Linked DNA regions of Homo sapiens. The protein of the gene in region 2 purifies or fractionates together with the protein of the main gene of each other region. This does not show direct contact. Each region holds a gene or a part of one and is shown on either strand. Other genes may lie near its edges.

Region 1 (3,811 bases), on a different chromosome or scaffold from region 2:
CAGCTTTAGAGCCTGCTCTTGGGCTTCTGCCCAGCCTCCATGAGGGCCCTGGCCACTTCCACATCAGCAAGGCCTCCACTAGGGATGAGGTTTGGGGCTGGCATCTGCCTAGGTAGCAGCAAAGGGGGAAAGGGTCAGTGTTTACTTTCGTAGCTATGTCTAAGGGTGGAGGCTAGAGAAGAATGGAGGGTAAGGGAAGGAGGGAGAAGGGGAGAGAGATCACGAGACTGACACAGAGTGAGGACTAGAAATCAGATCTGGGTTCTGCCAGCAGCTACTAGAGGGGCTCACAGTCTGCAGGGACTTTAAGGTCCCCACTGGAAGCCTGAATTTTCCCAAAATACAGTAGGCATTCACCTTCTGCTTGTTTTTGTTTTTCTTTTTGTTTTGGTAGAAACGGGGTTTCACCATGTTGGCCAGGCTGGCAAACTCCTGGCCTCAAGTGATCCACCCACCGAGGCCTCCCAAAGTGCTGGGATTACAGGCATGAGCCACTGTGTCTGGCCCACCTTCTGCTTGAAGGAACTCCAGCAACATGGAGCAAGCCCCTTGTCTGCAGACAGCTCGATTAGAACATTCTTCCTTGCCTCACAATGCCTGTTATCAAGGCATTCAGACTGTGCCCTATCCTTGCCCATTATAGATCTAAGTTTGCTCCTCTCTCAGGGCCCCAGTCCCCCATTAGGAAGGAACCAGAGCCCCTGCTTTCTACCACAGCAGCGGCACAAGTGGGTGAGCTCAGACAGCAGGACTTGCTGGGTGTCAAGGTTTTCAGATGCAGAGGCGGAAGCACCTCCTCCCCTGGAGCCCTCTCAGTGTGGTAATCCTGCTGTCTGCCTACTGAGGCCCCGGCTGGGGCTCTCCTGGGGGTATTTGAAGGGTTAAGGCTCCGGAATCTGCAGAGGAGGCCTGAGCTACTGGGGTTACAGCAAGAGGAGAGTATGTGTACTGGAGGGAGGGATGGAAAGGAGCAGCTGACTGGTCCAGGCAGCCTGCCCTCCTCCCTGCCAGAGACGGATGCCCAGAGTGGAAAAAAATAGCTCAGAATGCACATCTCAGGAAACCCCACCCAGCAGGCGCAGGAGCACAGCCCAGATCTGACGATTTGTTCCCCTCCCTTTTCCTTTATCTGCCCCCACAAGAAAACACTTTATCCTCCTACCCCAGGGCACAGCTGACCTCATAGCCACGAGAGCAAATGAGTAAAAAGATACACCCAGGAGTGTCTGGGCAAGTCACCAGGCCTGATTCTGCACCAAGGGGGCCCAGAATCAACTAAATATCCTTCCATCAGCCTGGACTTTGGGACTAAGAGGATGAAGCCACAGGGATCTAAACACTAAAATATCAGAGCTGGCTTAGACTTTGGATCTCACCTGGTCATTTGACAGACAAGGAAACCCCAGAGCCAAGAAAGTTCCTGCTCCACCCCAGAACAGCCCTCTTCTTCGTCATGGGTTTGGAACTTCCCTTCCCAGCCCCGCCCACTCTCTGAGTGATAGACACCAGCACACACCCTCTCCCAAGGAGGGGCCAGAACAAGCTACCATTCTCTCAGTTCTCTAGTGACCTCTCAGCTCAGAAACAGTTAAGACCGGGCCGGGTGCAGTGGCTCATGCCTGTAATCCCAGCACTTTGGGAGGCCGAGGCAGGTGGATCACGAGGTCAGGAGATCAAGACCATCGTGGCCAACATGGTCAAACCCCATGTCTACTAAAAAATACAAAAAATTAGCTGGGCGTGATATCCCACACCTGAAGTCCCAGCTACTCGGGAGGCTGAGGCAGGGGGATCGCTCGAACCCGAGAGGCAGAGGTTGCAGTGAGCCAAGAACATGCCATTGCACTCCAGCCTGGGCAACAAGAGTGAAACCCCATCTCAAAAAAAAAGACAGCCAGCCCTCGACTTCTGGCCCCCAACTCGAGGCCACCCCTCCCAGCCCCCTCTCTAGCCAGGGTGGCCTCTCTCTGGACCCATGGAGACCGAGGGGTGGCTCCAAGCTCCCAGGAGGGAGAGGCTGTCCTGGGGATCACGAGAGGACCCAGGCACCGCAGCTCCGCCACCCTTGTCTGGAGCAGAATCCTGTGATCAGAATGGTAATCTCGGGTTACCCCACCCAAGTCAGGATGGCCTGGGAGTACAGATAAGGGAAGAGGAAGCCATTAGCAGGCTGATGCTATAATACTTCTGAGCACAGTCCCTGTTCACTTCCTTCTTTGTTTCATCTCCTGTCTTTTCATTGAACTTCAAGATTAGGAGGGGAAAGAGACAGACAAAGGAGACTGATAACTAACCCCAAAAAAGAACTAGGGAAGGGGCCAGGCATGGCGGCTCACGCCTGTAATCCCAGCACTTTGGGAGGCCAAGGCGGGCGGATCACGAGGTCAGGAGATCGAGACCATCCTGGCTAACATGGTGAAACCCCATCTCTACTAAAAAATACAAAAAATTAGCTGGATGTGGTGGCGGACGCCTGTAGTCCCAGCTACTCGGGAGGCTGAGGCAGAAGAATGGCATGAACCCGGGAGGCGGAGCTTGCAGTGAGTCAAAATGGCGCCACTGCACTCCAGCCTGGGCAACAGAGGGAGACTCTGTCTCAAAAAATAAATAAATAAAATAACTAGGGAAGGAAGGGAACCACTTAGAGTAGTTGAACCACTTCCAGTACTTACTATATAACTAAGGAAGTACAGGTTGAATATCCCTCATTTCCAAAATCCAAAATGCTCCACAATCTAAAACATTTTGAGCACCAAGATGACACTCAAAGGAATGCTCACTGGAGCATTTCTGATTTCGGATTTTCAGATTAGGGACGCTCAACCAGTAAGTATAATATACATAGCCCCAAATCCGAAAAAATCCAAAATCCATGTGCTTCTGCCACTGTAGATGTCTGCCCCCATGGCTATCGTGACTATATGCTCGAGTAGGAGAGTAAAGTGTTTTCTTGGGGGTGGAAGGGAGTTGGGGTGGGTAAAAGAAAAGGGAGGGAAGGAAATTGTCAAAATGGTCCCATTTTGGATAAGAGACACTCAACCTATAGTAACTAAGGCACATCTGATCCTTGCAACAGTGCTGTGAGGTATTCTTACCCTCATCCCACTCTATAGATGAGATAACTGAAATTCAGAAAAAAAGAGATCTAGGGTCCCACAGCAGGCAAACAGCAGAGATGAGTTTAAGCATAGATCTCACACCTGATTTAAAATTCAGCCTCTTTGCTTTTATATCAGGCAGGAGTAGAAGCCCCTGAGGCATCTGTAGCACGCACCTGCGTGAATAGGCAGCACCAGGGTGGGGCCAAGGCAGTAAAGATCAAAACGATAGATAGAAAGGAGCTGAGCAAGCTGTTGTTGCTACCATTATTTCTTTCCCCTGCGGAAAGTTGATCTGAAGCCTGGGTCCTGGGCTAGGAGGTGGGGACCTGAAGTTCTTGTCCTGGCTTTGGGACTCACTCCACTGTGAGAGCCACATCTCTAGACCCAGTTTTAACATCAGTAAGACAATTCCCCTCAAATGAAAGAATGGCCAGGCGCGGTGGCTCATGCCTGTAATCCCAGCACTTTGGGAGGCCGAGCCAGGCGGATCACTTGAGGTCAGGTGTTCGAGACCAGCCTGGCCAACATGGTGAAACCTCGTCTCTACTAAAAATACAAAAATTAGCCGGGCATGGTGGCACATGCCTATAATCCCAGCTTCTCGGGAGGCTGAGGCAGGAGAATCACTTGAACCCAGGAGATGTAGGTTGCAGTGAGCCGAGACCATGCCACTGCACTCCAGCCTGGGCGACAGAAAAAAAAAAAAAAAA
Region 2 (3,411 bases):
GAGCCCCCTTGCCTGGCACATGTTTTGTACGGACAGGACGGGCTCCCCGACAGGCACGAGTCACCTGCACCTTCCCAGCGAGGCTCACCCTGGCTGTGCAGTGAAGGTGGACGCTGCCAGGCTTCTCCACATTCCTTCTCTTCCGTTGTAACTCAAGAGCATTTTTGCAAAGAGACTTGGATCCTATGAAAATGTCCTCTTCCTTATCAGGCTCACCTGAAACTCGTTTATTCTATCAATACAGATTTGAGGTTTCCTGCCTTATTCTTAAAGTCCCCACCATCACTTTGTATGTGGCTGACAGAGGCCCCTTGGGGCTGGCGCTGTGTCCCTGAACATCCCTGTCATTCTTTGGACACCCTTGTAGAATTCTCAGCACAAGGCGCTCTGGCTCTTTTGGGGTGTGGCTCGGCTGCTGCTGCCTGGACGGGGGCTGCCACTCTAGACCAGCTGCCCAGCACCCCGAGGGTCCCGCCGCTTGGGACTGGGGCCCAAGCAGGTGTGCTGAAGGCCTGGCTCTGGGCCAAACATGTCTCGCTGGCTCTCAACAGAGAACTATAGTGTCTTTTCCAAGTTTGGCTCATTTGTATACCTGTTGATCACCTGGTAGACTTAGTTCCCCTTTCCAGCAGTCCGGCGTCTGTTGCCAATCACATAAAAGTCGACTGGTGTGAGATGACCCAAGTTTTTGCAATGTACATGTTCATTTTTAGGGGTGGCTTTCCGGAGTCTGTTTTGAGTAAGAAAAGTGGGATCTGGCCAAGCTCTGCCTAGCCCTTGTCAAAGATATCTCATTCACCTTCCTCTGGCCGCAAGGCCCAATGTCTGGGCCCACTCTGGGCTCATATTTCTGTAATAACAAAAACTGTCTTTTATCATGGAAGCAATAACTGAGGGGTGTGTGAGGTTTAAGTAGTTTGACACCAAGGTCAAATGTTGTGTCTGTTTCTTATTTTACACACATGGATTTAACAAATAGGTACAGCTGCCCCTTCCACACCGCCCCAGGATCTGTTCTCAGTGGGAGGACAGCGCGAGGCCTTCTGCGCAAATCCCGTCCTCAGCACCTGAGGCTGTGAATCTCAGACCATTTGCCGAAACACACGTGTGCAAGCGCTCAGTCGCTGCCCCCCAGCCTCATCCTCAGGTTGCTCCTGATACCTCGGCCACAATTGCGTGAGGTCTGGAAGCCAGGGAGCGTTTGTGTTCAGGGCGGGGCGGCATGCAGCCCCCAGCCCTTTCTTCCAACTCCCGAGTGAGGATCACTCAGCCTTGCTTGGACGACAGATGCTCAGAGTTGAGTGGAGCCTTGCCCAGAGCCCAGCGCTCGCGGGCTGTACCCATCCCTGCCAGACCCAGAAAGAGGCCCAGCTGCAGGGAATCAGGGAAGCCCAGGGCTGGGTGGGTGTCGGCCCAGAGCCCAACCACGGGGTGGGGAGGGGGCATCCACAATCCACAGTCTCCGGGGGACGTAACCGCGCCCTGCTGGCTTCAGTACGTTTCAGGAGACGGCAGCGAGGCTACCTTGCATGGTGTGGTGGACGAGCTGGTGCGGTTCCGGCAGAAGGTCCGGCAGTTTGCGCTGGCCATGCCCGAGGCCACGGGGGACGCCCGGCGGCAGCAGCTCCTAGAAAGGCAGCCCCTGCTGGAAGCATGCGACACCCTGCGCCGGGGCCTGACTGCCCACGGCATCAACATCAAGGTGAGTGCCGCACCAAGGTCAGGGACATCACCCCAGGAGCCGGGTAGGTCAACAGGACGTGGGGCCATCAGAGGCCCAGACATCCCCCGTGACCATGCTTTTTTTTTGAGACGGAGTTTCACTCTTGTCACCCAGGCTGGAGTGCAATGGCGTGATCTCGGCTCACCACAACCTCTGCCTCTGCCTCCCAGGTTCAAGCGATTCTCCTGCCTCAGCCTCCTGAGTAGCTAGGATTACAGGCATGCACTCCCATGCTCGGCTGATTTTTTATTTTTAGTAGAGACAGGTTTTCTCCACGTGGGTCAGGCTGGTCTCAAACTCCCGACCTCAGGTGATCCTCCCACCTCAGCCTCCCAAAGTGCCAGGATTACAGGCGTGAGCCACTGCGCCCTGCCCATGCTTCTGAGTAGAGAAACCCACCCCCATAAAAAATGAGGTGGGAGGGCCGTGAGGGAGGGGCCAAGTTGGCTGCAGGGGACGCTGAGCACGGGGACGTGGGTCCTGCTCAGCCCCCGCCACCTCCTGCAGGTGCCTTGAAGCTCCTGGCCTTCTGCTGGAGGTAGTGGGGCCCTTTCTAAGCGCCTGGCAAGCTTTTTAGGACAGGCCGGTGAGGGAACAGGCACCCTGAACCTGATTACGCCTGTCAGCCCCCTGTGCCACATGACGTGGTGTCTGCTCAGAGTTGGACCTCACTCTTCTTCTCCAGGACAGAAGCAGTACAACATCCACGTGGGAACTGCTGGATCAAAGGACAAAAGACCAAAAATCAGCGGGCTGAGGATGGAGCACAGCCATGAACCTGCTCACGACAAGACGCACCCATGCTTCTCAGGGTCAAGGCTTTATGTTAAAGCTTCCTGTCGGGGCTGCTAGGTCAGCATTAAAGTAAGGCAACCAACAGTGTCCCACTGGCGTCTGTTTGTTAGTAACTGAGCCTAAACACTCACTGCGTTCTGTGGCTACAGACTCACCGTCGATTGAGTGAAGTAGTGTCAGACATTCAGTAGCATCCAGCAGCACACGTGCCTGTGCGTGAGACCTGCTGGCCCTGTGCCCAGGGAACAGACAACACAGCCAACAGAAGAGCAGGGACCCCGGGAGGCGGCAGAATGCAGCCTGTTTCCTCCTGAGGGAGGGGCTGGGGATGGGTGAGGTGGGTGGGCCACGCAGCATAGTCTGAAGCAGAGGTGGGACGCCAGCAATGCTAACCCCGGGACACCTCCCCCAGCAAGAACACAATCTTACGTTTTCTCTCTGGTTACAAAAGTAACGTATTCAGCATAGGAAAAATGCAGCTGAGAACCCGTCTGCAGTCCCGCTGCAGTTAACATCCTGGCAGCTGCAGGCCATCTTGGTGGTCATGGTCTGTGCAGAGCAGTGATGGGGTCGAGCTGGGCCTGGGAAAGGTTGGTTCCGGAGGAGTCAGGGCAGCCAGGCTGAAAGCCAGCTGGCGAGCTGTGACAGACAGGATTCCTGAGCGGGAGGTGGCGGCCAGCACACGGCAGGCTGCCTGGGCTACAGGACCGGTGGCCTCCTGAAGCACCCACCTTGCTCCTGATCTCACCCTTCTGTGGTAAGCCCAGCGCCACAGCTGTCAGTGACTCAGCAGGGTGACCCCTCTCCACTCTTCCTGCTCGCAGACCCTGGGCCAGGCCTCTCCCTGTCACACTGGCATCTCTGAATCCCAAGGGCACAGGCAGCAGCGGGAC

The links.
Region 1: the proteins of CARS2 (region 2) and TMBIM1 fractionate together in Homo sapiens (co-fractionation; one large-scale study listed by BioGRID). This does not show direct contact.

The regions. Positions count from the first base shown.
Region 1 is NC_000002.12:218,285,831-218,289,641, forward strand, and holds part of TMBIM1 (protein lifeguard 3), read right to left. Parts: intron 1,468-3,811; exon of another isoform or gene 1,377-1,467; intron 951-1,376; exon of another isoform or gene 510-950; intron 109-509; exon of another isoform or gene 1-108. UniProt on the Homo sapiens protein: Negatively regulates aortic matrix metalloproteinase-9 (MMP9) production and may play a protective role in vascular remodeling.
Region 2 is NC_000013.11:110,640,606-110,644,016, reverse strand, and holds the end of CARS2 (probable cysteine--tRNA ligase, mitochondrial), read left to right. Parts: intron 1-36; exon of another isoform or gene 37-684; intron 685-1,495; coding exon 1,496-1,702; intron 1,703-2,408; coding exon 2,409-2,480; 3' UTR 2,481-2,600; downstream 2,601-3,411. UniProt on the Homo sapiens protein: Mitochondrial cysteine-specific aminoacyl-tRNA synthetase that catalyzes the ATP-dependent ligation of cysteine to tRNA(Cys). In addition to its role as an aminoacyl-tRNA synthetase, has also cysteine persulfide synthase activity.